Regions from separate parts of the Homo sapiens genome. Here all the other regions are linked to region 1. Evidence: fine-mapped expression QTL. A gene starts in region 1. Each other region holds a variant in brackets. All regions are shown on one strand. Distances are between the middles of the regions.

The links. PIP is the estimated chance that this variant, and not a neighbour inherited with it, causes the effect.
Region 2: its variant is fine-mapped to the expression of DIAPH1 in whole blood (INTERVAL, PIP above 0.99).
Region 3: its variant is fine-mapped to the expression of DIAPH1 in lung (TOPMed, PIP above 0.99). The same link has a PIP of 0.9 or more in whole blood.

Annotation. Positions count from the first base shown.
Region 1 is chr5:141,614,142-141,624,859 of GRCh38, forward strand. DIAPH1 (diaphanous related formin 1) reads right to left here and starts at 4,859. Exons shown (of 28, transcript NM_005219.5): 1 at 4,657-4,859. The coding sequence starts at 4,773. It overlaps HDAC3 (histone deacetylase 3), which reads right to left. Exons shown (of 15, transcript NM_003883.4): 15 at 6,740-7,396. The coding sequence ends at 7,327. RefSeq lists silencers at 4,437-4,633, 4,444-4,493, 4,554-5,213.
Region 2 is chr5:141,633,482-141,644,199 of GRCh38, forward strand. HDAC3 (histone deacetylase 3) reads right to left here and starts at 3,368. Exons shown (of 15, transcript NM_003883.4): 1 at 3,255-3,368; 2 at 3,067-3,149; 3 at 1,330-1,472. The coding sequence starts at 3,309. It overlaps RELL2 (RELT like 2), which reads left to right and starts at 3,516. Exons shown (of 7, transcript NM_173828.5): 1 at 3,516-4,928; 2 at 5,314-5,379; 3 at 5,474-5,540; 4 at 5,983-6,168; 5 at 6,439-6,814; 6 at 6,931-6,964; 7 at 7,190-7,583. The coding sequence starts at 4,745. The coding sequence ends at 6,963. It overlaps FCHSD1 (FCH and double SH3 domains 1), which reads right to left. Exons shown (of 20, transcript NM_033449.3): 18 at 9,520-9,607; 19 at 8,221-8,276; 20 at 5,821-8,082. The coding sequence ends at 8,017. RefSeq lists enhancers at 688-817, 4,055-4,104, 4,805-4,924 and silencers at 2,841-3,135, 3,145-3,194, 3,255-3,544. The variant G/A (reference allele first, on the strand shown) is at 6,276.
Region 3 is chr5:141,401,211-141,411,928 of GRCh38, forward strand. The region is part of intron 1 of PCDHGA1 (protocadherin gamma subfamily A, 1); the gene reads left to right. All of the region lies in intron 1 of PCDHGA2 (protocadherin gamma subfamily A, 2), which reads left to right. All of the region lies in intron 1 of PCDHGA3 (protocadherin gamma subfamily A, 3), which reads left to right. The region is part of intron 1 of PCDHGB1 (protocadherin gamma subfamily B, 1); the gene reads left to right. It also overlaps PCDHGA4, PCDHGB2, PCDHGA5, PCDHGB3, PCDHGA6 and PCDHGA7, and 6 more genes. RefSeq lists an enhancer at 7,220-7,269. The variant A/G (reference allele first, on the strand shown) is at 5,788.

The DNA.
Region 1 (10,718 bases):
CAAAGTTTGTTTCAAAATGGGGATGATTTTTGTAGCCATAAATAATTTCAGCTACTGGGACATAAAAAGGGATATATAAACCTGCATATACAAACTCTTTGCTTCTCTATAACATCTAGTATTTATCAATAAAAATTATTTTAACCTGTTCTTCTAAATCATATGTGACATACAACTTATCTTTTAAATCTCTATTACATTTCATGGAAGATATATAACACTCCCTGAGAATAGCCTGGCAATACATTTATAAAATACCAAGGGCCTTGGGGAATAACAAAAGGTGATTCTAAGACACAGGAAATAAAATTATTCTGACCCGTGCACCCATCAACAAAATTAAATCATGTCTCACTATTTTCTTAGCTTTCATAATAAACATAATTTACGGGTCATAAAATTTTCAGCTTTTTAAAAAAATTTACCAACTCTCCCAAGGCAGAGATTTTAATTCTAAGGCATTCCCTCACTTTCACCTCCTGTGAGGGAGAATTTTCTTTGAAAAAGTACAGGTAACCATACCAAGTAGACTCATGATCTGTCCTTAAGACAAGGCAGGAAGAATGGCGGAAATCTTTAAGCTACCATTCTGTCATCTCAAACATCTCACTAACGTTCCTGTAGGCTCCCCTCCCTCTTTCCAAACTATATAATCCTTGCGTTCATCATCTGTTAAAAAAAAAAAAAGGTGTACAAAGCGCTCTGTATATTTTTCAGTTTTCTGCAAACTTTTGCAAAGCTCTCTGTATATTTTTCAGTTTTCTGCAAACTTTTGGATTAAAGTTAATGTTTTAAGAGGATATAAGCAGAAATCTGCACGAACAACTCCACTTCTTTCTGCCTGGCATCCTTTAATTTGTCTCCTTTTGGACAGGAGTCTACTACTAAACATTTATACTCTATTACTTTGCATTTAGAAGACCGTGTAACTGCAACATGATCATAACTCAATATAGGAATCCAAAATTAAACTAATTTTAATAATTTTAATAATAGTAAAAATCATTCTCTTGGCCGGACGAGGTGGCTCACGCCTGTAATCCCAGCACTTCGGGAGGCTGAGGCTGGCGGATCACGAGGTCAGGAATTTAAGACCAGCCTGGCCAACATGGTGAAACCAGTCTCTACTAAAAATACAAAAATTAGCTGGGTGTGGCGGCGTACACCTGTAATCCCAGCTGCTTGGAAGGCTGAGGCAGGAGAATCGCTTGAACCCGGGAGGTGGAGGTTGCAGTGAGCCGAGATCGCGCCACTGCACTGCAGCCTTGGACACAGCAAGACTCGTCTCAGAAAAAGAAAAAAAAAAAAAAAAAAAAAGGGCCGCACGCGGTGGCTCACGCCTGTAATCCCAGCACTTTGGGAGGCCGAGGTGGGCAGATCACGAGGTCAGGAGATCGACAACATCCTGGCTAACACGGTGAAACCCCGTCTCTACTAAAAATACAAAAAAAATTAGCCAGGCGTGGTGGCAGGTGCCTGTAGTCCCAGCTACTGGGGAGGCTGAGGCAGAAGAATGGCATGAACCCGGGAGGCGGAGCTTGCAGTGAGCTGAGATTGCACCACTGCACTCCAGCCTGGGCAACAGAGCGAGACTCCATCTCAAAAAAAGAAAAAAAAAATTCTCGCTAATGCTCCTAGTTAAATCAGGAAGCAATATTCTCTCTTACAATGCATCACTTTCTCGATTATATGAGAGTGCATACAAAGTCTATTAAATGTAAGAATACTCTGCAGCCTCCTAACATCCCGGTTCTACTTATTCCCCTTACGTATATTTTGGAAATCAGTCTATTTGACACCCACATTGATCACTGCTGAAAAGTCAGAAAACCCTCTGTTCACCTAAAATTTTTATTTTCCTTCATCTTAAGGACTTGTGAAAGGAAATGGAATAATGCCGGAGAAGGGGTATGCTCATGGCCCAGGAGAAGACAGACTCATGAAGAACCAAGGGGTAATACCAGGCAGCCTGGCTTCAGCCACTCACTGTCAGCACGTCTAACAATCATGTGTTTTTAAAAGATGATGCCCAACCACTTTTAAACTGAGGGTCCATCTCCTTTCCACACAAGATGCCTCAGAGGGTAAGAGCAGATCTCAGACAATTTGTGAGCTCTGTGTTCTCACCAGTTAATCCGTATTTAGAACCTGCATAAGCCAGGAAAGGTATGTAGCAGCTAAAGGAATTATAAACCCTCAAATGCAAACAACCTTCGGGCACACTTAGTCCAAACCAGTGCAGTTTTATACAGTACATTCTTAATGGAGTTCCAGAGGACACATACTCTAGAAAAGGTGGAGGCGGCGAAAGACCTTTGAGTTCAGTTTTAGCCTATAGTTCAAGAAAACTAAGCCACGGGTATCAAAAGCACACCAGCAATCTCGCCCACTCCACCCACCCACGTATACATACACAGACACAAAGAGAAGTGGATTGCAATGCTCCTCCTCATCTCTCATTTCCACAGAGTTCTCATAAAAGGAGCAAGAGGAAGAAAGAATATTCTGATGCCTTGAGATAGGTTACATTTGGCAATAAAAGGGTTAAGCAGCACTACTTTCCTAGAAACCTTCCAATTCCGTAGCTACTAATGCAATTTTCCTCATTACCTGAGCTATTTAGTTTTAAAAATTCAGCAGATTAAGGGTTAAGACTAACACCGCAGAAAGAAAAGAGAACTTGGTTCAGCTCCATCCTCTCTAAAGCAAATACCTACAACCCTGAGCCAAATCCATTAAACATATAGAAGACTTCATGGACATTCCAAAAGACAGGTGAAAAGGGGTTGAGCTTCCTCAGGTTTCTCACCTTACAGTACCACACACATAGTAGACTTCACAAGTTCGTGAAATAATTGTTAGATAAAATAGAGTACATATAAAATTCTACTCAAGACATGAAAACAAGTCACTGAGGTCACCACAAGTCAGCAGCAATAGCTGGAATTTGGGTGAGGAAGGTCAAACAGTACTCATGGAAATAAAATCAAAACAAAAAGATACAGAAATAGAAGGAATATGAGCCCTAGAACTTAAGTTTTGGAAGGAAAGCTAACGGGGGGGAGGGGTCAATTCTTATCCTAAAGAAACATACAAAAATGCTGCTTTAGTCACCAAAGAAGGAGGGGGTGTCAATACCCTTAACCTTATATTTCTAGGGGGGGAAAAAAAGATGTTCACCAGATAAAAACAGATGGTTACTGACATCTCAGATATCACTGGAAAGGGCAGTCCAGGAGCACTTGGTCTTGCTAGAAATAGGAAGAGATGAGTCACTATTTTAATTCTATTTAGAATTAAACATCTAACCCTCCAGGGTTAACATCTCAACCCTCTAGGTCATAAAACAACATTTTCTTCCTGTTTCCATCGCTTTATCAGTTTTCTTCCCAAATTTGTGGAGCTGGGTCAAAATGTTGGGAGGTGGGACTAAGAGTTACAAGCCATTTGTTTAGTAGAAAGATACACTAGTGTAAGGGCATAAATACCTGGAAGAGAAGACAAAAGAGCTACAGTTATAACTAGCTATTATAATGATCATCAATATCCAAGACTTTTCCTCTCCTGGACAGTGCCCCGTATCTTACAAAGCTTTTATAGCAAAAAAGCAACCAAACGGCTCCCTGGAGAGAGGCGTTGGTGTGGGCAAAAGGTAATGAAATATGATAGGGTTACATGTATATCACTATTCCTTCACTCGGATTGAAAGTAACTGGCACTTGAGGAAAGCTTACTCTTCTACAGGCACGCAAAGGGAAGCCGATAGTCGCCTTGGGGCACAAGAGGCAGTAGAAAAGGAGTAGAGGAGACGGTTATCATGGGAAATGTATAAAAAACAATTCAATTACAAACTTCTTGAACTCGCAGTCCAACTTTCTTCCCACAGGAGAGGTTTATCACCATCCTAGGTCAAGAAGGGCACAATCATGAGAGTTCTAATCCTCTGAAAAGTGATAAGCAACAGGGCAAAGAGAGAGGTTCTCTGGAGAGAGGAATACTGGTAAACAAATAAACGTCATGCCCCAGTGACCATAGGACCTGGGCAGGAGCCCATTCCTGTAATCGCAAGGACAAACGTCCAAAGAAGGAGTTGGGGGTAGGGCTCAAGTCAGGTAACATTCCTCAGGGGAAGGATTATCAAGTGACACCGGGCGGAGGGCCCACGGGGGACTGGGCGGGAGGAAAGTTAGCAGGTAAAAAGGATGAATCATGGAGAAGGAAGTGACCTTTAGGAGAAGGAAATACGAGAATACCAAAAAAGGTGTAAGGTTAAGAAGAGAAAATGGACCCAGAAGAGGGGACCAAAAAAGAGGAGGCGTGTTCGGGTACTGGAGGAAGAAGAAAGGAAGTGAGGCTGAGAGGGGAGAGACGGGGCTGAGAGCCGGCCGGGGATATGCGGGCGGGAGGGCAGAATGTAAGGGCTGGGGAACGAGGGAAGCCCCGAGGTGGCCGGGGCAAGAGCCGGGTGGGATTCCGGGGCTTCCCGAGGTCCCGAAGGGAGAGGATGTCGGGCTGCAGAGCTGCGGACCGAGCGAAACGAGGAAGGAAGGCGCGGGGGCGGCTCCCCAAAGCCGGGCAGGCGCCCCAGGGGCCGGCTGCAGGGGTCCAGAGGGCGGTTACGGGGCCAGGCAGGAGCGGGATGGGAGGGACACTCACAAATTTCTTAGATTTGCCGCCGTCGCCGCCCGCCGAGGGCAGCTCATCTGGGCTCCGGCCCTTCTTCTTGTCCCGGGTCCCGCGGCCGGGCCCCAGGCTCCCGCCGGGCGGCTCCATGTCCCGGTTCACGCTGGCCGGCGACCCCGCGCCTACGCCGCTCCCGCCTGGCAGCTCCGCGCCCGCCGCCGCCCAGTCGCTCTTTAGCCAGCCGCCGCGCCCCGCCTCATTAGCATGCCGGGCTGCGCGCGCCTCATGAATATACAACGACGACGCCTCGCTCCCGCCCGCCTGCCCCACTTCCGCCCGGACCCGCAGCCCCTACCAATGGGGGAAGGGAGAGGGGCGGAGGGAAGCCGCGGAAGCGCGCTACCTGCCCAGCGGACCTAACCATTCGGACCCACGTGGGGGGGGGTGGTGAGTGGGCGGTGCAGCTCTCCGCGGCCGCGGCGGAGAGCACCGCCCCCTGGCGGTTGGAGCAGCGCAGGCCTCTGGCTCCCACGCAGCGCCCACGTGGCTGTACAGCCTGACAGCCTGGACCCTCTCACATCCCAGACCAAAAATCGCGTGAGACCATTATCCTGGCAGAAAATTAGTGACAGGTTTTCCAAGAGAATGCAGTTTTCAATGTGTGCAATACCCATGGAACACATGAAAAAAATTATAGTGATAGCCACCATGTTTTGAAAGCAAGGTAGCAAGAACAGAGCTCGGTCCAGGGCAAGCACTAGACTAAACCAGACTCGCTCTGGAGTTTAATTTCCTAGTTCGAATTCCAGGTTAGGTACCATCTAATTGTTTCTAATCAGGACAAACTAATTATTGCCAACATGTGCCTAAACAGCAATAACAGTTACCACTTAACCATGCCCTTTGCTCTCTGCTAGGCACTAGGCAAACACTCTACATGTATTTTTCTAAGTCCCCACAGTCCCATGTGATAGATTCTGCTAGCCTCACCATTTTATAAATAGTAAATTTGGACTTTTGAGAGTTGAAGTGACTTGCCCAAGAACGCATAATTGATATAAAATTTAAACCCAGCTTAGTCTGATTTGCTGCCAAACCCTATGTTTAACCAGGATTCCCCACTGACATAAACCAAACATGAGTGAAAAGAATGAGTATTCTCCAAGAGTATATTCTTTGCTCTTCTAGCATGACTTTCTCCCTAAGCAATTTCATCCATTCTCCCAGCTACATCTGTCCCTTGTGTGACAGTTACGTGGCTACCAGTCGGCCTTCACAATATGGACTGAATATTCTTGACCACAGCTAGCAAGATTTCAAGCATAAGTTCCTGAAGGGCAGAGTCAGTGACTTACTTACTCTAGAGCCCCAGTACCTAGTCAAGGGCCTGAGATATACCAGGGACTCTGCCAAGCTGGCTGGCTCCTAAATTTGGCATTCATCTCTCTTGTGGTCCAGACCTTCTGATGGTGATCGGATAGAATGTTACATAGAGCTGTCCATCCCATACTTCAAACTTGACTTAGTGCTGAGCTTTCCAGACATTTTGTCTAAAAAGTCCAAAAGCTACTTTCTAAGCTAGTGTTGAGAACAGACAGAATCAGAGAATGGAGGGGAGGAAGTGACCCATCTATCAGTCCTCTTTCTTGTATCAGTCTGTATCTGCTACAATATTTATCATACTACTGACTGGAATGTAAACTCTTCTAGAGAAAGGTTCATGTTTGTGGCTACTACAGTATTTAGCATTGTTCTTCACATAGACAGATAATGGGCAACTTCTTCTGTCAGGCACTGTGCTAAGCACTTAACATGTTTTATCTCAGTGTATCTTCACCAACTAGCATCACTACTCTAAACACCCAGATTCAAAAACCTGAAGTCATCTTCTACTCCTCTCAAATCTGCCCAGGTTTGTCTAACTCTTAACCAAAATCCTCTATTAACTTCTTATATTTACAATAATAAATGTAGAATACATACACAGGGCCTAACGTAGGATAAGTGCTGAATGAATGTTAACTATGCTTTTATTACATGCATCATCATGCCCATTTCCCTCTCCTTTCATAAATAGGAAACTAGCAAGAATTAACATTCCTAGAAAGGCGAAAGGTACAAAAAATACCGACTTAGTTTATTGGATAAAAACAGTGGTAAAATGGACATAAAGCCAAAAGTGAGAACAGAACATTTTCATATCCTCCCCACACTTGAAAACATACTTCCCATCATCTGGGATTCAGGTGTTAGGGAGCCAGAGCCCCTTCCAAATCTCTCTCTCTTCATCTTCCCTGGAAGCAAGGGGAGGAAGAAGTCAGAACCCAGGGGAGGAGGAAGTCAGAGGCAATCTCAGTCCTTGTCTACCCGTTCATCCCTCAAAAATCTCTGGGTTCGAGGGAAGCAGGGAAGAAATAAGGGGCAAGGGGGGCTAGGGACTGGCCTCCAGGGCCCACTGCCAATAATGTCCCAGATAGCTATCCTTGTCTGTATCTCATCCCTAATAGGTACCATTGTCAGGCCTTGGGAGAGAGAGGAAAAGCAGGTAGATGGTTCGAGAACCAAATGTGGTCTCCAGACTCTTTCCCAGAGTCAGCAAAAGCCCTGGGGTGACCCCCAGGACTCTAGGAGCCACTCCTTTTCCCTCCAGCCCAACCAAGAGGTGAAAAGAAATTCCTTGGGACACAGCATCCCAAGCCACTCTTAAATCTCCACATCGCTTTCCTTGTCATTGTCATGGTCTCCATCATAGAACTCATTGGGTGCCTCTGGCCTGCAAAGCAAGGGGAGAGAGGTCAGGATCTCACTCTAAGTTCTAATCTTCTCCCAGCACCCTTTTCCAAAGCCATTTCTCAGGCCCCGTTGAGAACCACTCCTCCTCTTGTTGGTAGAGACTGCTATTCATTCACCCATTCACGTATCAAATAAACATTAAGGAACTACTCTATACAGACACTGTCATAAACCTTAGCAATACAGTAGAGTAACAAGCTGGACAAGGTTGTCTATCCTCAAAAAGCTTACCTAATAAATGAGACTAGTAACTAACAAAGTAAATAAATATAATAATTTCAGATGATGGAGAGTACAATTAATAAAATGAAGTGATAGGACTGAAGGTGATGAGAGGAAAAGGGTGAAATTTCAGACAGGACTATTGGGACATAAGACCTAAAGTCTGAGGAGGAGCTAAGCAGGCAAAGACTTCAGGAAGGCCATTCCAAGCTGCAAGAAAACCAACTACAGAGGTCATGAAATGGAAAGAGACTGATGTATTCCAGTAAGAACAAGGAGGCCAGGACAGCCGGGAGCACTGTGCATGGAGGAGAGTAGTTAGAGATGAGATCCTGGATGTAGGTAAGGGCTAGCATGCAGGACCTTTTTAAGCCACAGTCAAAATTTTGGATTTTCTTCTAAGTGCAAGGTAAAGGAGAGTTTTAATTTTAAGAAGAGTGACGTGGTATTATAAACCCATAGTGAAAGAATGGATGTGAAAGCAAAACAGGGCCCAACAGGTACTCAATATTGGTTTCTTTCTTTTTGAAAAAGTATTCTCAAAAGCCGGGCGTGGTAGCTCACACCTGTAATCCCAGCACTTTGGGAGGCCAAGGCAGGTGGATCACAAGGTCAAGAGATCAAGACCATCCTGGCCAACATGGTGAAACCCCGTCTCTACTAAAAATACTAAAGTTAGCCGGGTGTGGTGGCACATGCCTGTAATCTCAGCTACTGAGGAGGCTGAGGCAGGAGAATCGCTTGAACCTGGGAGGCGGAGGTTGCAGTGAGCCGGGATTAGCCACTGCACTCCAGCCTGGCAACAGAGTGAGACTCCATCTCAAAAAAAAAAAAGAAAGAAAAGAAAAAGTATTCTCTGGGACACAGAGAATTGAGAAAGTCATCAAAGAGAAGCTGAGGCACTAAGCCAGGAAAGGCCTTATCTGCATGGTGAGCAATGTCTCAGTTACTTCTAAGTGCACAGGGTTAAAGGTGTGGAGTCAGAGAATCAGGTTGAATCTCAGCCCTGATCTTTAACTAGCCATGTGACCTTCAGAAAGTTACTTAAGTCTCGCCGGGGGCGGTGGCTCACACCTGTAGCCTGTAATCCTAGCACTTTGGGAGGCCGAGGCAGGCAGATCACCTGAGGTCAGGAGTTCGAGACCAGCCTGACTAACATGGAGAAACCCCATCTCTTCTAAAAATACAAAAAAAATTAGCCAGGCGTGGAGGCTCATGCCTGTAATCCAGCTACTTGGGAGGCTAAGGCAGGAGAATCGCTTGAACCCGGGAGGCAGAGGTTGTGGTGAGCTGAGATCATGCCATTGCACTCCAGCCTGGGCAAAAAGAGCGAAACTCCGTCTCAAAAAAAAGAAAGAAAGAAAGTTACTTAGACTCTCTGAGCCTTAGATTCCTCCCGTGTTAATCTGAAAATAAGAGCCATCAGAGTTGTCTGATGGCAACAGAATGATCATATATATGTTGTAATAGATAGCACTTAGTAGTGTCTGGTGCTTGGCAAACCTACAAAAAGTGGTAACTCTTCCTATTTCTACTCTGCAAGTCATATGCAAGCTGGAGCTATAGGCATCAAAGAAGAACAGAAACTCAGTGGGTGGCCTGACAGAGAGGTAGGGCTTAGGAACAGGAAGAGGCCTGAGGCTTCTGCTGGCTGTGACAGGGCTTGGTATTATTATAATGCAGAGACTAGGTCCAGATGCCAGCCTGGAGCTATTGATAAAAAACCCAAAAGGAAGAACTTAAAAACAGGTTTTACCAAACCAAACCAGACAATGAAAAGCAATTTCCAATAGTCCTGGAAGCCCTGAAGCCAGACACTTCCAGATGTTCAGACACTTCCTCACTCAGAAGGGATCGGGGGATATCCTTGGAGGAAGAGAGTTGCAGAGATCCCCAAGAGTCAGAGCAGTAAAGCCCAGGTCCAGAGGAGAGATTCGGAGGCCTGAATTCTAAGACAGAAGCAGATTCTAGAAGGGGCTGAGAAGCCCATCAGGCTCTGCAGCAGAGCCGGCTCAAACCTCTAACCCTGCGTGGGAGCAAGACAGCGTGTCCCACAAGTGTCCAGCTGTGGTTATCCCTCAGTCATGTAAGGAAATCTGTTCCCCATTAAGTGCATCTGTTTCTGCACTTCTTGGTTCTGTTGTCTTTCCCTTTCATTTTTCAGCAAAGTTTTGGGATTAAAAAAAAATTCCATCCTATCCTTTTTCCCCCCTAATTCATTCCATCTACAAATATTTTGTATGTATCTCAGAAAGATAAAGACTTTTAAAAAAAAAAAAAAAACATAACCACAATGCAATTATCCCACCCGAAAAAATTAACAGAGCAAAGAAATCAAAGAGCCTTAGAGAGTATTACGCAGGCAGTGACCTGTCCAGCTCAAGACCTGGAAAGACTGAGAAAAATGCTGGCAAGACTATAGGGTGCTACAGACTTTCTGGACGGCAATTTGGCAGCAAATATAAAAAATTTTAGGCCAGGCTCAGTGGCTCACGCCTATAATCCCAGCACTTTGGAAGGCTGGGGCAGGAGGACATTTGAGCCCAGGAGTTTGAGACCAGCCTGGGCAACAAGGCAAGACTCCGTCTCTACCAAAAAAAAAAAAAAAAAAAAAAAAAAAAAAAAAAATTAGCCAGGTGTCGTGGTGCACACCTATGATTCCAGCTACTCGAGGGGCTGAGGCAGGAGGATCGCTTGAACCCAGGAGTTCAAGATTGCAGTGAGCTATAATCATGCCACTGTACTCCAGCCTGGGTGACAGAATGAGACCCTGTCTCAAAAAAAAAAAAAAAAAAAAAATTAATGCACACAGCCTTTGACCTAGCAGCAACCATTCTACTATCTAACCCACTCAAACAAGAATGCAAAGATGTATAATGTAAGGGGGTTCATTGCCACATTATTATTGTAATACCAAAAAAATGGAAAATAATCTATCCACATAGTAAATTATTATACAGCTGATAAAATACTGAAGCAGATCTATATTAGCTAGCTGAAAACAGCTATATGATGTAAAGCAGCATACGTAGAATGACCCTATTTGTATTTACGAAAAACCAAAAACCACACAAACTGTA
Region 2 (10,718 bases), 19 kb after region 1:
GATCTGCTTTAAAACAATCTAACATGAGGGAGTATAGATGAAGTAAGAGTGGCCACTTGCTCAGCTGGGTGCGATGGCTCACGTCTGTAATCCCAGCACTTTTGGAGGCTGAGGCTGGTGGATCACCTGAGGTCAGGAGTTCAAAACCAGCCTGACCAACATAGTGAAACCCCATCTCTACTAAACATACAAAAATTAGCCAGGCATGGTGGCAGGCGCCTGTAATCCCAGCTACTCGGGAGTCTGAGGCATGAGAATCGCTTGAACCCAGGAGGCAGAGGTTGCAGTGAGCCAAGACTGCACCACTGCACTCCAGCCTGGGCTACAGAGTGAGACTCTGTCTCAAAAAAAAAAAAAAAAAAAAAAAGAGTGGCCATTTGCTCATAAGCGTTGAAGCTAGGTGATGGACGTATGGGAGGTCACTGCACTACTTCACTTTCAGAAATTTTTGAAATTTTCCCTAATAAAAAGTTTAAAAACAAAAGTAAGTAGAATTGAGCAACTGGTAGCTGTGATGGTTACTATTTTTTCATGGATATAGAGTAGAGTGTGGCTTATCTTTGTTGTCCACTCTCTTCCCCAGAGGGTCTAACCCTGACTCTTCTATGGATGATACAAGCTCAATGTAAACCTAATGATATCAAACCACTCCTTCGTTGTTTTTTTTGTTTTTTTAACTGCCCATAGCCCTCTTAAGATCCCTTGCTTTTTAAAACACTTTGATAGCTTCCCTCTACTCTACGGGTAAAAACCCCAATTCATAATAGAGCTGTTTGCTTTTAAAAGGTCCTATTTCTTTAGCCTCAATTCAGTTCACCTCCTCTTCATACTCTGCACTTGGCCTTTTTTCTGTTCCTCAAATGAGTCATACTCAGTCCTACCACAGACCCTTAGCACTTGTCCCTACTGCCTGCTATACTTCTCCCCTCACCCTCCAACCATCTTTCATCTGATTACTTCTACTCTTTTTTCAGATCTCAGCTCAATCTTTACTTCCTCTAGGAAGGCCCCACCGACCAGCCACTCCACCAAGCTAAACAATCCTCCACGTATACACTCTCATAATCTGTCATACACCTCCTCTTTATAAGACTTAGCAAAAATACGATATTAAAATTTTGTTTTTGTTCATCACTGCATTCCCAGCACTTAGCACAGGGCCTGCCTAGAACAAGTGACCAATAAATATTTATTGAATAAACAAATAAAATGAATTATGATGCATTGACAAGTAGGCCCCCCTTGAGATCTTCCCACTGCTGCCAAAAGACCTCACTGAAGGGCTTGGCATTAAACTGTTAGACATCAAAACTCCCAGTCCTCCCTCACCAGTCATCGCCTACGTTGAAGGCATTAAGACTCTTGGTGAAGCCTTGCATATTGGTGGGGCTGACTCTCTGCAGGAAGTCAATGTAGTCCTCGGAGTGGAAGCGGCACATGTCATGTTGGGAGGCCTGGTATGGCTTGAAGACCTCGGGATGGAGACACAAGATGAACCCAGGCAGGGTCAGCCCCACTCCACAGGCTCAGACCACCCATACTGAACCCAGTCCTGGAGACTATATGAAGCCAAACATAGCATTCCCCTCATCCCACAATCCTTAAGTCAGTAGAGAGACTCCGATTAACCAGGTAAGTTATTACAAATGAGCCCCCTGAAGACCACTTCTTTTCCTTTCCACCTCCAGCTCAGCCTATCGTACCTTCTCAACTTTGAGCCCTGATCCACCTGCCCTGTTCCTTGGAATCTCCTATTCCCAGTTCTCTCCATGCTCATCTCCTCCCCCAAGCTCTGATTCTGTCCTCTTTCCTCTGGATTCTTCTTTCTGGAGTCAAATATATGGGATATATGTCAACTTTCTAATTAAAATCAAAGATTTATTATCTTTGGAAGGTCAGGGGGATGTGTCACACCTCTTTGAAAACTGCACAAGAAAGAGCTTTTCTTCTCCCAGAAAATGCACACAGGTACATACAGGCAAACAATCTCAAGGGATATAGATTCCTGCACTAACATCACCTCAGTCTTTTCTATGACCAGTCCATTTGTCTGTGCCTTGGCACAAGCAATGAACATTCATTCATATTGTTCACTAGTTTCCCTAGCAACACATAAAGCCTGGGTTTAGCTGTTTTGTCTTATTTTTTCTTTTGAGACAAGGTCCTCCCTGTCAACTCAGGCTGCTGATCATAGATCACTGTAACTTTAAACTCCTGGGCCCAAGCCATCCTCTCGCCTCGGCCTCCCAAGTAGTTGGGACTACAGGCACACCCACCGCACATGGCTACTTTTTTTATTTTTATTTTTTGTAGATGTGGGTCCCACTGTGGCCCAAGCTGGTCTCCAACTCCTGGCCTCAAGCGATCCCCCCCATTTCAACCTCCCAAAGTGCTGGGATTACAGGCATGGGCCACCACGCCTGGCGTGGCTTAACTGTTACTATCCCATATCACAGCCATAAATTCCAAGCTGGGAAGACAGCATGTGTATGTCTGGTAGATGAAAAACTGGATAGCGATTAAGCAGAACCATGTAGAGGTATTCCAGGCTGAAAAAGGAATATCTAAAATATCGCCTCTGTTCCACACGCACATACACATTTACAAAGACGGCAGCATCGTTCCACCCTGGAGCCCTAGCTCCTTGGAGGTAAAGAAAGGTGGTAAAAGAGGAGTGGGAACTGAGGGTAAACCTCACACCCTGATACAGTGATATCCGCTCCCCTAACCCTAATTCCTGAGGCCAAGGCCCTATCCACACTCTAAAATGCAGAGGAGGAACACACCTTCTGTCTTCAAACCAGCCCCACATCACGCTAACCCTAGGCCAAGGGCTAGTGTGCCTACAGTCAGAGGGTGGCCGACCTGAGGTGAGAAAGTACTTTCCATTAAGCAGAGGACGCCACCCCCAACACCCTGCACTTTCAAGGTACTCCTGGTGACTTCTATCCAGCTCCCCGATACTCTAGGGGCGGGTCGCACTTCATGCACTCAGTCCAGCCCACCTATCCCTACGGCCACAGCTCGCCCCACCCCCCAACCCCCGGCCGAGGCGGCGGAACTCACGATCATCTTCTTATAGAGACCGTAATGCAGGACCAGGCTATGGGTCAATGCCAGGCGATGGGGCTTCATAGGGTGTCCAGCTCCTGGGGGTGGGGAGAAGAGAGTTCGTCAGCTCTCACCCCTGGAGTTGCAACCCCGCCTCAAAACCTCCGTGTCCCAACCCCTCATGCATATCCCTGTTTCCTCACCGTAGTGGAAGTTGCCCACGTCGGGGTCGTAGAAATAGGCCACGGTCTTGGCCATGGTGCCGGCGGGAGCAGGCCCCGCACCTCCGCCGCCCGCCGCCCGCGGCCGCCGCCAGCCCCTCCCCGGCCGTGCGTGCTGCGCAAGCACGTAGCCGGCCTCTGCGGAACTGGGCGTTGCGGCCCCGCCTCCATCCACACCCAGGCCACGCCCCCAGGGGAGCTCCGCCCCTCGCCCGGCTCAGCTCTCCCGGTATCTGGGGCTTTGAGCGTCCCGGGTTGGGCAGGGAACTGGCAGCATAGCTCCTAGGATGCGAGGGCCATTTGTCTCCGGCCGGGGGTCAGATCCTCGGGAAGCCGAGCCATCCCATCCAGCCGCTTGCCCCAAACCGGGCGCAGGCCGTGGTCACTTCTCTAGGAAGCTCCGAAGATCCCGCCACTCCGTCCCTCAAAGGTGCGGAAAGCCGGCTTCCCCCAGCCCTCGGAGAAGATTCCTGACTCTCCGCTCGGTCGGGGCATCTGAGGGCAGGAGCTGCGCCAGGCGTACCGGATAGACCAGTGGACAACACCCACGCCGGACCGCCTGTCCCCTACCCGGACCCAGACTCGGCGCCGCACATTGCCCCGGGGGGGCCCGGCGCAGTCACGCGCGCGCAGAGCTCACGCTCTCCGCCCCGCACACCTGCGCTCCGCCCCCTGGTCCTGGGCCCGCGACGGGTGAAGGCATTTGGGAAGCCAGGGCGGCTGCGGAGGCGATCTCCCTGACCCAGGGCCGGAGTTGCCCGGAGCCTGCCACCGCTCTCAGCCAGCCCGCATCCTTCTCTGTTCTTCCCTCCCCCCGCCTGCCACGGCGCGGGTATCCGCAGCCACAGCCCGGGGCCGGTGAGGCGGCGAAGGGGGAGGGGAGGAATCAAGGGATGAGCGCCGGAAGGGCGTCGGGGGCCCTGAGCCGCACTAGGACGCCCCTGGAGCCGGAACCCCAGCAGAAGCCGGAACCAGAACCAAATCACCGGTACCGGGTCGGCCAGGTGGTCAGGGTGGGAGAAACCAAAAAGGGAGAGGGGTGCGGGAGTACTGAGAGGAAGGGGCTGCAGAGGCCTGGCTCAGGCCGGCGTGGAGGAGGTGCGGGCGCTGACTCAGGCAGGATTTCTGCTCCCGCCGCCTAAGAATGCCGTCCCATCTCGTGCTGCAGTGTCCTTGGGAGGGACAGAAGCGCGAACAAGCTGGAAAGGGGAACGCTCGGGGCGTCGGGGAAGCGGGACCAGGGTCGTGGTAGAGAGCTTGCGTTGCCGCTGACCTCTTGCCGAAAGGCGAAACAGCACTCCTGGCCCGGACAGCTCCCTGGTTGGGTAGGGGGTGGGGCCGGACCTCAGCCGGACGTCTTAGACGTGCTTGTTTCAGATCCTGAGGACGGCATTCCTACCCCTCCCCCATTCCCAGCTGCAGCCCCCTAAACCCAGGAGGCGCCCTGGCCCGCGCTCGCCCCCCAGGGCCTCATGTCGGAACCACAGCCTGACCTGGAACCGCCCCAACATGGGCTATATATGCTCTTCCTGCTTGTGCTGGTCTTCTTCCTCATGGGCCTGGTAGGCTTCATGATCTGCCACGTGCTCAAGAAGAAGGGCTACCGCTGCCGCACGTCGAGGGGCTCTGAGCCTGACGATGCCCAGCTTCAGCCCCGTGAGTGAGGAGCCTGGAACCCTGGCTCAGTCACCTTTCACCCTTCTCCCCACACCTCTGCCTCCCTGACCAACAGACCCAGGCCAAATCCTGATCAAACCTGCTCAGGAAGCCTAGTGATGCACTCTTGAGTTAGCAAGTGGGGTGACACCACTCTGAAAGCAAAACTAGAGAAAGCAGCATGGGCAGGAACGGTCCTCTGGATGGTAGTCTTGGGCTTGCATTGGTGTCCCCATCTTTTCTGGTCCCTGAAATGCTGAGGTCCAGCATGATAGCAAGTAGGTAAAAGGGTATGTCCTAAGCAATAAATGATGGGAGCCACCAGGTAATATTCCCCCAAAGCTGACTCATTCCTGCTTCCTTGCCAATCTCTTTCATCCTTCAGCTGAGGACGATGACATGAATGAGGACACAGTAGAGAGGATTGTTCGCTGCATCATCCAGAATGAAGGTGGGTCTAGCATAGCCCCTTGCTCCCTCTTCTCCAACCTTCTCTTGCCCTGACCTCCACCTCCACTGACTCCCTCTTTTCCTTCTTCCCTCAGCCAATGCTGAGGCCTTGAAGGAGATGCTGGGGGACAGTGAAGGAGAAGGGACAGTGCAGCTGTCCAGGTGAGCTGGAAACAAGGGCCAGCATGACTTAGCTTGCCTTGGAGAGTATCCTCTCCTCCAGCACAATCCTCTCCCAGCCTCCTTGCATGTATGGGGTTGGGGGAAGGGCAAAGCTGGCTAACTTATAGGAAGAAAGTTGTTTTGTAGAAATCGCGATTCCTTCAAACCATCTCTCTCATCTAGATATCATCAAGCCTAACATTCACCTCTAGTGCCACTCCTTTGGGTTAAGCAGTGTTCTTTTTAGCAAACAGCCCTGGGAGGAAGAACATATGGTCACTAACATCTTAATATTGAGTTTATTAGATAAAGACAAGAAAAAATGGGGCTTGGGGAAATTGGGGCTTCTGGGGTTTTAAGGAGCATGCTGAAAGAACGTAAGAAACAAAACATGAAGGGAAATGGAAATGTTACCCTCACTCCCCTCCTCCCTGCTGTCCAGTGTGGATGCCACCTCCAGCCTGCAGGACGGAGCCCCCTCCCATCATCACACAGTGCACCTGGGCTCTGCAGCCCCTTGCCTCCATTGCAGCCGCAGCAAGAGGCCTCCACTTGTCCGTCAGGGACGCTCCAAGGAAGGAAAAAGCCGCCCCCGGACAGGGGAGACCACTGTGTTCTCTGTGGGCAGGTGGGGCAGGTGCTCCAGGGAAAGGGGGGCTGAGGTAGGGGGCCCAGTGATCAGGCACCTGATCCCAAAAGTGGGCCTTGGCTCTTTCCTCCTGGACTGGGAGCTCC[G/A]GCAGAAGTCAGGCTACACAATGTGCCCCACAATCTGAGAAGGCCTCCCCTACCTTAGGCCAGAGGGAAGTAGCCACCAAACTCAGGATGTCCCTGGTCAGAGGGGAGGGCCAAGCAGCCTCTGAGTTGTGGTCCTAAACCCCAGTGTTCCCTCCCCTCCCAGGTTCCGGGTGACACACATTGAGAAGCGCTATGGACTGCACGAACACCGTGATGGCTCCCCCACAGACAGGAGCTGGGGCTCTGGTGGGGGACAGGACCCAGGGGGTGGTCAGGGGTCTGGGGGAGGGCAGCCCAAGGCAGGGATGCCTGCCATGGAGAGGCTGCCCCCTGAGAGGCCACAGCCCCAGGTCCTAGCCAGCCCCCCAGTACAGAATGGAGGACTCAGGGACAGCAGCCTAACCCCTCGTGCACTTGAAGGGAACCCCAGAGCTTCTGCAGAGCCAACACTGAGGGCCGGAGGGAGGGGCCCAAGCCCAGGGCTGCCCACTCAAGAGGCAAATGGGCAGCCAAGCAAACCAGACACTTCTGATCACCAGGTAGGAAAACACAGCCGGGACTGCACTGGGCTGGGCTCTTATTGCTCTCTACTCTGGGGGGCACTGATAGGACCTACTCCTGGTCTCTCATTGTTGACCCCTCCCCTTTCTCTCAGGTGTCTCTACCACAGGGAGCAGGGAGTATGTGAGGTGAGTCTGCCTGAGCCCTAAATGAGGTAATCTCATCTTCCCATCACCTACTTAAACTATTTAAGCCTTTCGGCTCCCTGAACCCCCCGAGTAAACTGCAGGCTTAGCCTTTGCTATAAATCCCTTGGTTTGGTGGTGGAGGTAGGGAAGGTCCTGGAGCCCCAGGGGAAAAGCTGGACACAGCTTGAACAGGAAGCAACAGTGTTATTCTTCCTCTTCTCCAAGTCTCCTTCATTGTGCTGATGGACTACCAGCTGGCAGGGCCAGGGGGTGGGTGGGCGTGAAAGCCCTCCCCTCCACTGGACAGCACTGCCCCCCAGCTGAGGGACCAGCTCTACTTCCACCTGGAGTTGCACAGTCTCAGGCTGGGGGCCTCAGGAGAGGTCACAGCCCCTCAGTCTCTTCTCCTTCCCCTGCCTGCAACAGGCTGCCTGCCCCGCCTTCCCCAACACCTCGCTCCATATGATAGAGCGTGGCAGCTGGGAGCAGGCCCCTGCCCGTGGTGGGCCCCTAAAGCAATAGCACCGTAGGCCCCCTGCCCTCTTAGCACAAGAGGCCCAGGCCCTGGCCTGGCCTTCGTGCCCTTTATTCATTGTCAATAAATCCGCTCAGACCATTACAGCTGCTTCGCATCCTGGCTCCAGCTCCTGATTCCCAAGGCCTGTTCCTCTCCCCAGCCCAACCCCAGTGACCCTGGCATCCAGAGTGGGGTGGGTCATGGAGCCAGGGTGGGGAAAGAGGTGGGCCAGAACTACTAGAGACCTTGATGGATGGTTTCCAGCCCCAGAGATTTCAGGCATTTCACCACCCTAGATAGGGTCATGACAGAAGAGAAGGTAGTTCCGGTCCTAGAGATGATAGAACAATGGGAAAAAAAGGAGTGGGTTCCAGCTCTAGAAATGGGAAGGGGCAAGTTTCCACCCTTGGAGGTGAGGGTGGAAATAAGGGCGATTCCAGCTTTTGGCTGTGTTGCTCTGGATCATTGATGGTGTGGTCTGACAGCTTGAAGATAGGGACAGCAGCATCACTGGGGGTCAAGGCTTCCCTGGCCTTCAGGTGAGGGGATCTGGGTGGCCAGGATCCGGGGCTTTAGCCGGCGGGGGAGGTGGTGGACGCATCTGTAGGGAACACACAGTTAGTGCTCCAGAGTTCTCCCTTAAGGGTATCCCTGTCTATTCCCTCAGCCCTGCAGACAAAACAGGACTGGTTGGAATAACCCCTCTACATACAATCTCCTCCAAGGCAAGGGCCCTTACCGGCCTGAGTCGAGGTGCCATCATGTCCAGGAACCCAGGGAAGTCCAGGGCTTTGTCTGGAAATAAGAACCACAAGTCAGTCTTCAGACTTTGTTTTGTTCAATGCTGTATCTCCAGCACTTAGGACAGTGGCATTCTATAAATATTTGTTAAATTAATGGTCACCATCCTAGACCATAAAATCCATCACTCTATCCACTGTCCTCAACATTTATTGGGCAACTGCTGTATAATCAGCTCTGCTCAAGGTACAAAACTAAGGGAGATAGGATGCATAGTGCTCCCACCCCCAATGGCTGTCAAGAAACCAATAATGAAACCTCAACAAACACAATAAATGACTAAGTGCTAAGTCATGCAAAGTGAACTTGGGGTGGTGGAGATGGTGGTAACTCCAGGGAGGGAGACTCCTTGTGGACAAGGTGGAAGTACCAGAAAGTTTTAGAAAAGGCAGGCATTCCACAGCCATAAAAAAGAATGAAATCATGTCCTCTGCAGCAACATGAATGGAGTTGGATGCCATTATCCTAAGTGAACTAACTCAGAAACAGAAAACCAAATATTGCATGTTCTCACTTATAAGTGGGAGCTAAACAACGGGTACACATGGACATAGAGATGGAAATAACAGACTCCCAGGACTCCAAAGGGGGCAAAGGTAGGAGTAGAGGCAGGGGCGAGGGTTGAAAAATTACCTATCAGGTACAATGTTCACTATTTGAGTTACAGGTACACTAGAAGCCCAATCTCCACCAGTATGCAATATATCCATATGACAAACAAGCACATGTACCTCCTGAATCTAAAATAAATAATAAAATAAAACTGCTATAGACATTTAAAAAAGAAAAAAAGTGGGCATCAGAAAAAATAATGATACAAAGCTAGGTATCTGGACACTAGGAGCAAAAGGTGCATATTGGGAGGACACCGTGAGAGAAGTTAGCTAATTTTTAAAATAATAACAGTGACTGCATACTTACTGTGTGCCAGGCACAATGCTGTGTAGTCCACAGGCATCTTTTTTAACTCTCATAAGAATTCAATAAGCTAGTACCTTTTCCTTACCTCATAAAGAACATAAACTGAGGCCAAGACAGGTTCAGAATCCCACCACACACTTGGAGATGACAGAGCGGGACCTGAACCAGTCAGCCTGGCTCCAGAGCCCAGGCAAGTGCTCTCCACCAAGCAAGATGCCTGAAGGCACGGAGAGGACCAGAGCGTGACCTGGGAGTCCAAGCTTCCTCCTTCTTCCTGTCTGTTAGCCTCCCAAGGCTCCCAGTTCCTTCCACTCACCCCCAGGCAGGACAGGTGCAGGGGGCCCATCCAACACAGAGGTAGGTGCAGGTGGGGAGAAGCTGGGAGGAGAAGGGGACGGCAGCATCTGGAGGTGGGGTGGGCACAGAGTTATTCCTGGCATGTGGGGAGGTTTTACCAGCTTTTCCTCTCATCCCATCTCCAGTTCCTTCCTCATCACTTCTCAATACAGGAAGTGGCCAAATGCTTGCATTCGGTGGGGGGGTGTAGCTGACAAATATTTCAACAGCCAATATGTATTGAACGCTTATGTTTACTATGTCTCAAGTGTTCTGCTAGCACTTCACGTGTACCAATTCATTCAATCCTCACCACTACCCCATGAGGTAGGCATTTTTAATAATATGACTCCTATGTTAGAAGTGAGACCCAGGTTAAGCCAGCTGTCCAAAATCACGAAGCCAGTTATTGGCAGAGTGCTGGCTAGAACCCAGTTCTCCTGATGCCCACTCCTATTCTCTTTCTGCTGTATGTATATACATTATAACAACAGATATCTTATATTGAAACACCTTCTGCATTCCACTGCACTAAAGGCTTTGCCTCGGCGGGGCGCAGTGGCTCATGCCTATAATCCCAGCACATTGGGAGGCCAAGGCAGGTGGATCACCTGAGGTCAGGAGTTTGAGACCAGCCTGACCAAATGGAGAAACCCTGTATCTACTAAAAATAGAAAATTAGCCGGGCGTGGCAGCACGTGCCTGTAATCCCAGCTACTCGAGGGGCTGATACAGGAGAATCGTTTGAACCCGGGAGGCAGAGGTTGCGGTGAGCTGAGATCGCACCATTGCACTCCAGCCTGGGCAACAAGAGCGAAACTCTGTCTCAAAAAAAAAAAAAAGAAGAAGGCTTTACCTCGATTATCTCTAATTATGACAGTGAGCCTGCTAAAGTAGGTATTATCCCCATTTTACATGTGAAGAAACAAGCTCAGAGAGGTTAAATCATTGCCCAAGTCATACAATAGAAATTTGAACTCAGATCTATCCAGCACTAAAGTAGGACCCCCCAAACTCCTATGAAGGCTGCCTTGGTTTCCCTTTTCCCTGCCCCCCCATAGGAGATGGGAGGCCCAGGCCACTGTAGGAGGTAAAACTGGGGAGCAGAGGAGGCATTAAGATGAATATGAGGCTTTATTGGGGTGGGAGGGTCAACCCAGAGGTGCCTGGGGAGTTCAG
Region 3 (10,718 bases), 210 kb before region 1:
GGGCGCCTGTAATCCCAGCTACTCAGGAGGCTAAGACAGGAGAATTGCTTGAACCTGGCAGGTGGAGGTTGCGGTGAGCCGAGATCACTCCATTGCATTCCAGCCTGGGCAACAAGAGCAAAACTCCATCTCAAAAAAAAGGAAGGAGAAGGAGAGGAAGAAGAAGAAAAATACTACATGTTATGTGTATGAGAGAGAAAGAGAGAGACTGATTCACTGAACTTAGAAGGTCCAAATCATCCAAATAATTTTCTAAGTTTATCCAGGTTTTCTTGGATGCAAAATCCTTTTCCACCTCTATATAATTACCAGAAGAAACTTACAAAAAAAAGGAAATGCTATTGCCTGAATTTCTCTTGCTCGGAATCCTGACATATTCTTGAAGAAGGGGAAAAAGACACCGGATTTGTCTTATCGTTTGGAGCTTTAAATATAAATGACTGGATGTTTTCTCAACATCCTTGTAGGATGGAAGGTGAATACAGGATTATTCCATTTTTAAGACAAAAACTACTAGTCTTGTGTACATACAAAGCTCCCATTACATGGTATAAGTCTTTTGCTTGGTTTCCCTTAGTATGTGATTCAGTAAATGGGTTCCTTACAAAGTGCTGAGATTTCTTATAATACCACTTACTTTTAACCTTTCAGTAGTTTTCTTTGTTGTATATTTTGTGTTCTTTTTCCCAAATTATTATATAAGTTTAAGTGATGCTTAGAATAATGTTTAAGACCACTTTAAAATTGCATAATTTATTGATGAAGGATTAAAATAGAAACTTGCTTTTCAGTGTATATGCATTTGAATCATTGAAACACAGTCTGTGCATGCATTACATATTCACATTAAAAAACTAAGCATTTTTGAAATAGCAGAAAAGTTTAAGCAATTACAAAAATGTGAAAATTTCCAACTTTAATCCTGTTAATATTTAGCAATATTAGGCGAGAACATCTGTAACTATTGCTGAATTAATATTACTTTTATAATACAAAAATTTAAAATAAACGTTTTTCCAGGAATTTTATCATCAAAATAAACCCCAGAAAATAATTTCAAAGTGGATAATCTATCCTTATATATGTATTAATACAATTATATATTTTACATTTACAAATATATAGGTATAAAAATTAAAAATGAATGTACTTCCAAACAAGATTGCACATAAAAATTACTTCAGAAAATTGTTAAGATACACAGAAAAAATTGAAGCATCATAAAAAGGAAATTATAATAGTTTACATATCTAGAAATAGAGTGCAAAGTTCTACCAAGAATAAGAATAAATTAATATTAAGCAATGGTTTGTGATTTTATAATACACTTACAGAAATTTTATTCCACTTTATTTACAACTCAGATATCTAAAAAATAGATTGCTTTTGAAATACAAATGCAAGAAACAATTGGAGAAATCTAAAATCATAATTAGAAGAGAGTAGTGTTTTCTTTATCAGCCATCTGATATAATGTTACACATCAGTGGGTGTAGTAACGGCTTAGGACTCTGAGCGCCGCTGTTGATCAACTCTAAGCGAAAATCAGGACTCCATCCGGATTTCCAGTTCTGCGGCTACACAAAACCCGGCAGATACCACAAACCTGCTCCCAGGCTGCAGCAAAACTCAGCCTCTTTCTTCTAAGGAAAAGATCACCATACTTTGCAGGGTGGAAGAAAGAACCTGATGAAGCAGCGCGCACAGAGATCCTTTTGAGAAAATTCCAAAGCGAGGCAGCAATGGCAGCTCCAACCAAATGCCAGCTCCGCGGAAGATTAGTCCTGCTATGCTCGCTCCTGGGGATGCTATGGGAGGCCAGGGCCAGTCAGATTCGCTACTCAGTGCCTGAAGAGACAGAAAAGGGCTATATTGTGGGCAACATCTCCAAGGACCTGGCTCTGGAGCCCCGGGAGCTGGCGGAGCGCCGAGTCCGCATCGTCTCTAGAGGTAGGACGCAGCTTTTCTCTCTGAACCCGCGCAGCGGCACCTTGGTCACCGCGGGTAGGATAGACCGGGAGGAGCTCTGTGCTCAGAGCCCGCGGTGTCTGGTGAACTTTAAAGTCCTGGTTGAAGACAGAGTGAAACTGTACGGAATAGAAATAGAAGTAACTGATATTAACGACAGCGCCCCAAAGTTCCAGGCCGAAAGTCTGGAAGTAAAAATTAACGAAATCGCGGTTCCTGGAGCACGTTATCCACTTCCAGAAGCTATTGATCCGGATGTTGGCGTGAACTCCCTCCAGAGCTACCAGCTCAGCCCCAATCACCACTTCTCCCTGAACGTGCAGACTGGAGACAATGGAGCCATAAACCCAGAGCTGGTGCTGGAGCGCGCCCTGGACAGGGAGGAGGCAACTGCCCACCACCTGGTCCTCACGGCCTCGGATGGCGGCGAGCCGCGTCGCTCCAGCACAGTGCGCATCCATGTGACAGTGTTGGATACAAATGATAATGCCCCGGTTTTTGCTCAACGGATTTACCGAGTTAAAGTCCTTGAGAACGTGCCCCCAGGCACCTGGCTGCTTACTGCAACAGCCAGCGACCTGGATGAGGGAATCAACGGAAAAGTGGCATACAAATTCTGGAAAATTAATGAAAAACAATCTCTGCTATTCCAGCTTAATGAAAATACTGGGGAAATATCAACAGCAAAAAGTCTAGATTATGAAGAATGTTCATTTTATGAAATGGAAATACAAGCTGAAGATGGTGGGGGATTGAAAGGGTGGACAAAAGTGCTCATTTCGGTGGAAGATGTAAATGACAATAGACCTGAAGTGACCATTACATCTCTGTTTAGCCCAGTGAGAGAAGACGCACCTCAGGGAACAGTAATTCTTCTTTTCAATGCTCATGACCGAGACTCCGGGAAGAATGGTCAAGTTGTCTGTTCTATCCAGGAGAATCTATCTTTTACATTAGAAAATTCAGAAGAAGATTATTACAGATTGTTGACGGCCCAAATTCTTGACCGAGAAAAAGCCTCAGAATATAATATCACGGTGACTGCAACAGACAGAGGAACTCCGCCCCTGTCCACAGAAATTCACATCACCCTGCAAGTGACTGACATCAATGATAATCCACCTGCTTTCTCTCAAGCCTCCTACTCAGTCTACCTCCCGGAAAACAACGCCAGAGGTACTTCCATCTTCTCCGTGATTGCCTATGACCCTGATAGCAATGAGAATTCTAGAGTTATTTACTCCTTGGCAGAGGATACCATCCAAGGGTCTCCTCTCTCCACCTATGTCTCTATTAACTCAGACACTGGTGTGCTGTATGCTCTGTGCTCCTTTGACTATGAGCAGTTTAGAGATTTGCAAATGCAGGTGACGGCAAGTGACAGTGGAAGCCCACCACTTAGCAGCAATGTGTCATTGAGACTGTTTGTTTTGGACCAGAATGACAATGCCCCAGAAATCCTGTACCCTGCCCTCCCCACTGATGGTTCTACTGGTGTGGAGCTGGCACCCCGCTCTGCAGAGCCTGGCTACCTGGTGACCAAGGTGGTGGCAGTGGACAGAGACTCAGGCCAGAATGCTTGGCTCTCCTACCGCCTATTCAAGGCCAGTGAGCCAGGGCTCTTCTCGGTGGGGCTGCACACAGGTGAAGTGCGCACAGCTCGGGCCCTGCTAGATAGAGATGCGCTCAAACAGAGCCTTGTGGTGGCTGTACAGGACCATGGCCAGCCCCCTCTCTCGGCCACTGTCACGCTCACAGTAGCCATAGCTGACAGCATCCCAGACATCCTGGCTGACCTGGGCAGTCTTCAGATCCCTGCAGACCTGGAGGCCTCAGACCTTACCCTCTACCTCGTTGTGGCTGTGGCAGTCGTCTCCTGTGTCTTCCTCACCTTCGTTATCACGCTGCTGGCCCTCAGGCTGAGGCACTGGCACTCCTCGCATCTGCTGCGGGCTACCAGTGATGGGTTGGCTGGTGTGCCCACCTCACACTTTGTGGGTGTAGATGGGGTTCGAGCTTTCCTACAGACCTATTCTCAGGAGTTCTCCCTCACCGCTGACTCAAGGAAGAGTCACCTGATCTTCCCCCAGCCCAACTATGCAGACACACTCATCAGCCAGCAGAGCTGTGAGAAAAATGAGCCTTTGTGCGTCTCTGTTGATTCCAAGTTTCCTATAGAAGACACCCCTTTGGTTCCGGTGAGTTCATTTTTTTTCTTTCTTTCTTTTCTTTTTTTGTTTTTTGTTTTGTTTTGTTTTTGAGACAGAGTCTTACTCTGTTACCCAGGCTGGAATGCAGTGGTGTGATCTCGGCTCATTGCAACCTCCGCCTCCCAAATTCAAGCGATTCTCCTGCCTCAGCCTCCCAAGTAGAGTAGCTGGGACTAGAGTAGAGTAGCTGGGACTACAGGCCTCCCAAGTAGAATAACTGGGACTACAGGCACGTGCCACCACGCCCGGCTAATTTTTTGTGTGTTTTTAGTAGAGACGGGGTGTCACCATGTTGGCCAGGCTGGTCTTGAATTCCTAACCTCAAGTGATCCACCCACCTCAGCCTCCCAAAGCACTGGGATTACAGGCGTGAGCCACTGCGCCTGGCCCTTAACTTTCTATTATAGTTAGCTTTCTCTTTAACTGTCTGTACTTAAGGTAGTATAAGTTGATATCAGTGTGTTTCTCATCACTTTTCACTGGGCCTAATTGTTGCTCCAACACTGAAAGGAGGCATTTATTAGTTATATTTGCTGATATAACTTTCATGTTCTCATAATAATTAACCTGCTGTCAACGTAAACCATACTTCATGGGGTAGCTCTCAGCCTGCATTGATGTGGGCTTTTTGGGTAGGGTTGCTTCATTGGTTGCAGTGGACTCATATCATAAAATTCTTACTCCTTTTTTTTTTTTTTTAAGAGATGGGGGTGTCATTCTGTTGTCCAGGGTGGAATGCAGTGGTGTGGGTAAAGCTTACTGCAGTCTCAATCTCCTGGGCTTATGCAATCCTCCCACCTCAGCCTTCACAGTAGCTAGGACTGAGGTGGGAGGGCTAGCAAGCTATGTTGCCCAGACTGGTCTCAAACGATCTTCCTGCTTCAGTTTCCCAAAGCACTGGGTGAGGTGTGAACCACCTCACCCAGCAAATTCTTACTCCTACGATCATTTATTCAGGTCATACTATGTTTGTAAGGGTAAACTGATAAAAAGGTAAATGTATTCTTCTTAGAGAAACAGCTGAAAGCCCAGATTTATTGCTTCTATTCTTCCATTTCTATGACAGGAAAACACCTCTTTGAGGTTATATTTTTCAGATCACAAGTGTGTAAAGTCTGTTTGTGTTTACAGATATTTTCTGACGAAGATTCAAACTTCAGTTATCCACTTCCAAACCCTAGTAAACCAATTTTTTCCCTTTAATGGTGAAAGTTGTCACATCTTTTATTCTCATATCTTCAAAGGTCTTAATTTCCTAATGCTTTAATGTTAAATTATGGAGAATAGTAGGACATTCTTCTTTTCTATAGTATATGCTTGCTCAAGAGAAGTTTCTAAGACTGGACACTGTGAAATGACAAAACAAGGAATTAAAAATATTTCTCTCACTTATATATTATTTCTGGCTCAATTCTCCAACTTTTGAGTCTAGAAATGAACTTGCATATCAGATATAATTTAAGAAAATATTCTCAGGAACTGCTGGGAAGATTCTAAAACTATTTTACTGTTTTTAGCTATAAGGAAGAGAATAATGTATTATTTAATGTTATTTTAAACATAGTGTTGTTTCAAATAGTAAATAACATTTCACAAGACATTTGAAAAT[A/G]AGCTTTGAAGTTGACTCAAAATTCTATGCTAAACATGTGATCCATAGATACACTGATGACTGCTGGCATTTCTGTGGAAATGAAGAATTGTTTTATTTGTTTGTAATTATTTGGGTTTCAGTTGCTTTATTTTTAAGAAAAAAAAGCTGAAGTGTCTGGGAATCCTTTATGACATACAGACATTTTAATTATTTCAAACACGTTTTCCCCCTTAAGTGGGTAGCAAAAAAAATAAAGCATACTTCAGGCTCATATTTTTAACCATGCAACAAGAAAATTGTTACAATTTCTGTTCTGAGGAGTAGCCTTCATACTTAGTATTTATAAATATTGAAATGTATGTTAATTTGGGGAAAACATAACAGATATCCATGAAGGCTTGTATGTCATGGTAGGTAGTTACTATTCGATACCACAAAAATGTCTCTTGCCCTTAAAACCAGAACACGAGGCTCACCAGACAGATGACTGAATGGAGTATGGAAAATCTTTATTTCTGTTTTTCTTAGGCTATGTAGGACTTAACTTATTGTGCATTGGTAACAGATTGTAGAACATAAGCTGAAAGATAAAATTCTTGACCTTAATGTCTCATCTTAAAAAGAAGCATTGGTTGACATTCTATATCTCGTATTACTTAAAAATAATGGGGGAGCGCAGTATATATTAAACAAAGATTGGCTTTGTGGTGATCATTGTTGAAGGTGGGGTGATGGCTATGTGAAGGTTCACTATATATACTCCCTACTGTTGTATAAGTTTGAAATTGTGCATAATAGATTTATTTAAAACACAAAGCATAGAAATATCTACTATAATATTATGGTGAGAGCAAAATTTGAGGGGGATGTACACCTGCATTTTCGAAGAATATATACATTTCGGAGACCGAATTCAAAATGAAAAACCGGGCTGCTGTCCCGCACGGAGCCTCTGGGCGCCGCTGTCGGCCAGTGCAGAGCAAGCGCTGACGCCGGGGATCCGTCAGCCTCTGGCCTGGGATTCCCTGCGCAGCCAACAACAGAAAGAAGAAAACCAGCTCCCACACAGAGCCTCCCGGCTGCGCAGACCTTTCCCAGCACAGCGGATTGCCAGCTCCGAGACCCGGGACTCCTCCTGTCCTGGGCCGAATGCTCTTTTAGCGCGGTAGAGTGCACTTTCTCCAACTGGAAAAGCGGGGACCCAGCGAGAACCCGAGCGAACGATGGGAGGGAGCTGCGCGCAGAGGCGCCGGGCCGGCCCGCGGCAGGTGCTATTTCCTTTGCTGCTGCCTTTGTTCTACCCCACCCTGAGTGAGCCGATCCGCTACTCGATTCCGGAGGAGCTGGCCAAGGGCTCGGTGGTGGGGAACCTCGCTAAGGATCTAGGGCTCAGTGTCCTGGATGTGTCGGCTCGCAAGCTGCGAGTGAGCGCGGAGAAGCTGCACTTCAGCGTAGACGCGGAGAGCGGGGACTTACTTGTGAAGAACCGAATAGACCGTGAGCAAATATGCAAAGAGAGAAGAAGATGTGAGTTGCAATTGGAAGCTGTGGTGGAAAATCCTTTAAATATTTTTCATGTCATTGTGGTGATTGAGGATGTTAATGACCACGCCCCTCAATTTGATAAAAAGGAAATACATTTAGAAATTTTCGAATCTGCATCCGCTGGTACACGACTATCGCTTGACCCTGCCACGGATCCTGATATAAACATAAACTCAATTAAAGATTATAAGATAAACTCTAATCCTTATTTTTCATTAATGGTTAGAGTTAATTCCGATGGTGGCAAATACCCAGAGTTATCTCTGGAGAAACTCCTAGACCGGGAAGAACAGAGATCTCATAGCTTGATATTGACTGCCTTGGACGGAGGGGACCCACCAAGAAGTGCCACCGCTCACATAGAAATTTCTGTCAAGGATACCAATGATAACCCCCCGGTTTTCAGCAGAGACGAATATAGAATTAGTCTTAGTGAAAATCTGCCCCCTGGGTCCCCTGTGTTGCAAGTGACAGCCACTGACCAGGATGAGGGGGTCAATGCTGAGATAAACTACTACTTCCGAAGCACTGCCCAGAGCACAAAACATATGTTCTCATTGGATGAGAAAACAGGTATGATTAAGAATAACCAGTCATTTGATTTTGAAGATGTAGAAAGGTACACCATGGAAGTGGAAGCGAAGGACGGAGGTGGTCTCTCTACCCAGTGTAAAGTAATCATAGAAATCCTTGATGAAAACGACAACAGCCCAGAAATAATCATCACTTCTCTCTCTGATCAGATTTTGGAGAATTCACCTCCAGGAATGGTTGTTGCCCTCTTCAAAACACGGGATCTGGATTTCGGAGGAAATGGAGAAGTCAGGTGTAATATAGAAACAGACATTCCATTCAAGATTTATTCTTCTTCCAATAACTACTACAAACTGGTGACAGATGGAGCCCTGGACCGAGAGCAGACACCAGAATACAATGTCACCATCGTAGCCACTGACAGGGGCAAGCCGCCTCTTTCTTCCAGTAGAAGCATCACCTTGTATGTCGCTGACATCAACGACAACGCCCCAGTTTTCGACCAGACGTCCTACGTGGTCCACGTGGCCGAGAACAACCCGCCAGGAGCCTCCATTGCGCAAGTGAGCGCCTCTGACCCGGATTTGGGGCTCAATGGCCACATCTCCTACTCTATAGTGGCGAGTGACCTAGAGCCCCTGGCGGTGTCGTCATACGTGTCAGTGAGCGCGCAGAGCGGGGTGGTGTTCGCGCAGCGCGCCTTTGATCACGAGCAGCTGCGCGCCTTCGCGCTCACGCTGCAGGCCCGCGACCACGGCTCGCCCACGCTCAGCGCCAACGTGAGCCTGCGCGTGTTGGTGGGAGACCGCAATGACAACGCACCGCGGGTGCTGTACCCAGCTCTGGGTCCTGACGGCTCCGCGTTCTTCGATATGGTACCTCGCTCTGCAGAGCCCGGCTACCTAGTGACTAAGGTGGTAGCGGTGGACGCCGACTCGGGACACAACGCCTGGCTGTCCTACCACGTGCTGCAGGCCAGTGAGCCCGGACTCTTCAGCCTGGGGCTGCGCACTGGGGAGGTGCGCACGGCTCGAGCCTTAGGCGACAGGGACGCAGCCCGCCAGCGCCTGCTGGTCGCTGTGCGTGACGGTGGACAGCCGCCACTCTCTGCCACCGCCACGCTTCATCTGGTCTTCGCAGACAACTTGCAAGAGATACTGCCAGACCTCAGCGACCGCCCTGTACTCTCTGACCCCCAGGCTGAACTGCAGTTTTACCTGGTGGTGGCCTTGGCCTTAATCTCAGTGCTCTTCCTCCTCGCCGTGATTCTGGCCATTGCCTTGCGCCTGCGACGCTCTCTCAGCCCTGCTACTTGGGACTGCTTCCATCCTGGTCTCTGTGTCAAGTCTGGACCTGTAGTTCCCCCCAACTACAGTGAGGGGACTTTGCCTTATTCTTATAATCTGTGCATTGCACATACGGGTACAAAAGAGTTTAATTTCCTAAAATGCAGTGTGCCCCTACATTCCAATGAAGACATGGTTTGCAGTGTTTCTCCTGGAGCCTTAATTCCACCTCATGGTGGGGAGGATTTGACTTCACATCCTGAGACTCTGACTTCGGTGAGTTTCTCTTTTTTGTGTGTGATTTATCTAATAGTCTACTAGTTTCTCATATTTTAGGCATACTACTTTATTTTCATATCTAGAATCATATGTTTAAAATCCATAGCTTTTTACAATATTTTCTCAATGTTTTTTCAATTATAGTTTTCACTATGTATTTGGTTCATAAGTTGCTCTATCTTTTTGTAAAATAATGTCACCAGACTGAAGATATTTTGTCTTTGTCTTTTTTTTTTTTTTTTTTTTTTGAGATGGAGTCTCGCACTGTTGCCTAGGCTGGAGTGCAGTGGCGTGATCTCTGCTCACTGCAACCTCCGCCTTCTGGGTTCAAGCGATTCTCCTGCCTCAGCCTCCCAAGTAGCTGGGATTACTGGTGCCCCTCACCACAGCTAAATTTTTTGTATTTTTAGTAGACATGGGGTTTCACTATGTCGACCAGGCTGTTCAGAAACTCCTGTCCTCGTGATCCTCCCACCTTGGCCTCTCAAAGTGCTGGGATTACAGGCGTGAGCCACAATATTTTGTCAAGTTCTGACTATCGAACAGAAGCAGTGGTCTTGGCATCTAAGAAAACAAACAAGTAACCTATCTATTCAAATTTGCGAAGACTTAGTGAATTTACGATATCTTATTTATATATTTTTAAAGCCTAAAAATATTCAGAAGACAGGCCCAGTGGCTCACACCTATAATCACAGCACTTTGATAGGCTGAATCGGAAAGTATCACTTGAGCCCAAGAATTGAGACCAGCCTGGGCAATATAGGGAGACCCCCCATCTCTACTAAAACAACAACAACAAAAAAAAACATTAGCAGAGTGTGGTAGCATTCCCCTGTGGTCCCAGCTACTTGGGAGGCTGAGCTGGGTGGATTGCTTGGTCCTGGGAGGTCAAGGTTGCAGTGAGCCCTGATCTTGCCACTGCACTCCAGCCTGGGCGACAGAGTGCGACCCTGTCTCTAAAATAAATAAATAAATATGCAGGCAGGGCCAAGTGTGCTGTAATCCCAGCACTTTGGGAGGTGGAGGTGGAGAATCTCTTGAGCGCAGGAATTTGAGACCAGCCTGGGCAACACAGGGAGACTCCATCGCTACAGAACATTTAAAAATTAGCAGGGTGTGGTGGCACATGCCTGTGGTCTCAGCTACTCTGGTGGCTGTGGTGGGAGAATCGCTTGAGCCCAGGAAGTCTAGGCTGCAGTGAGCTGTCTAGGTGACAGAGTGAGACCCTGTCTCAAAAAAAAAAGACATTTCTAAGAAATAAATGAAATACTATTGCCTTTGCACTCAGTCTCTGTCTCTGAT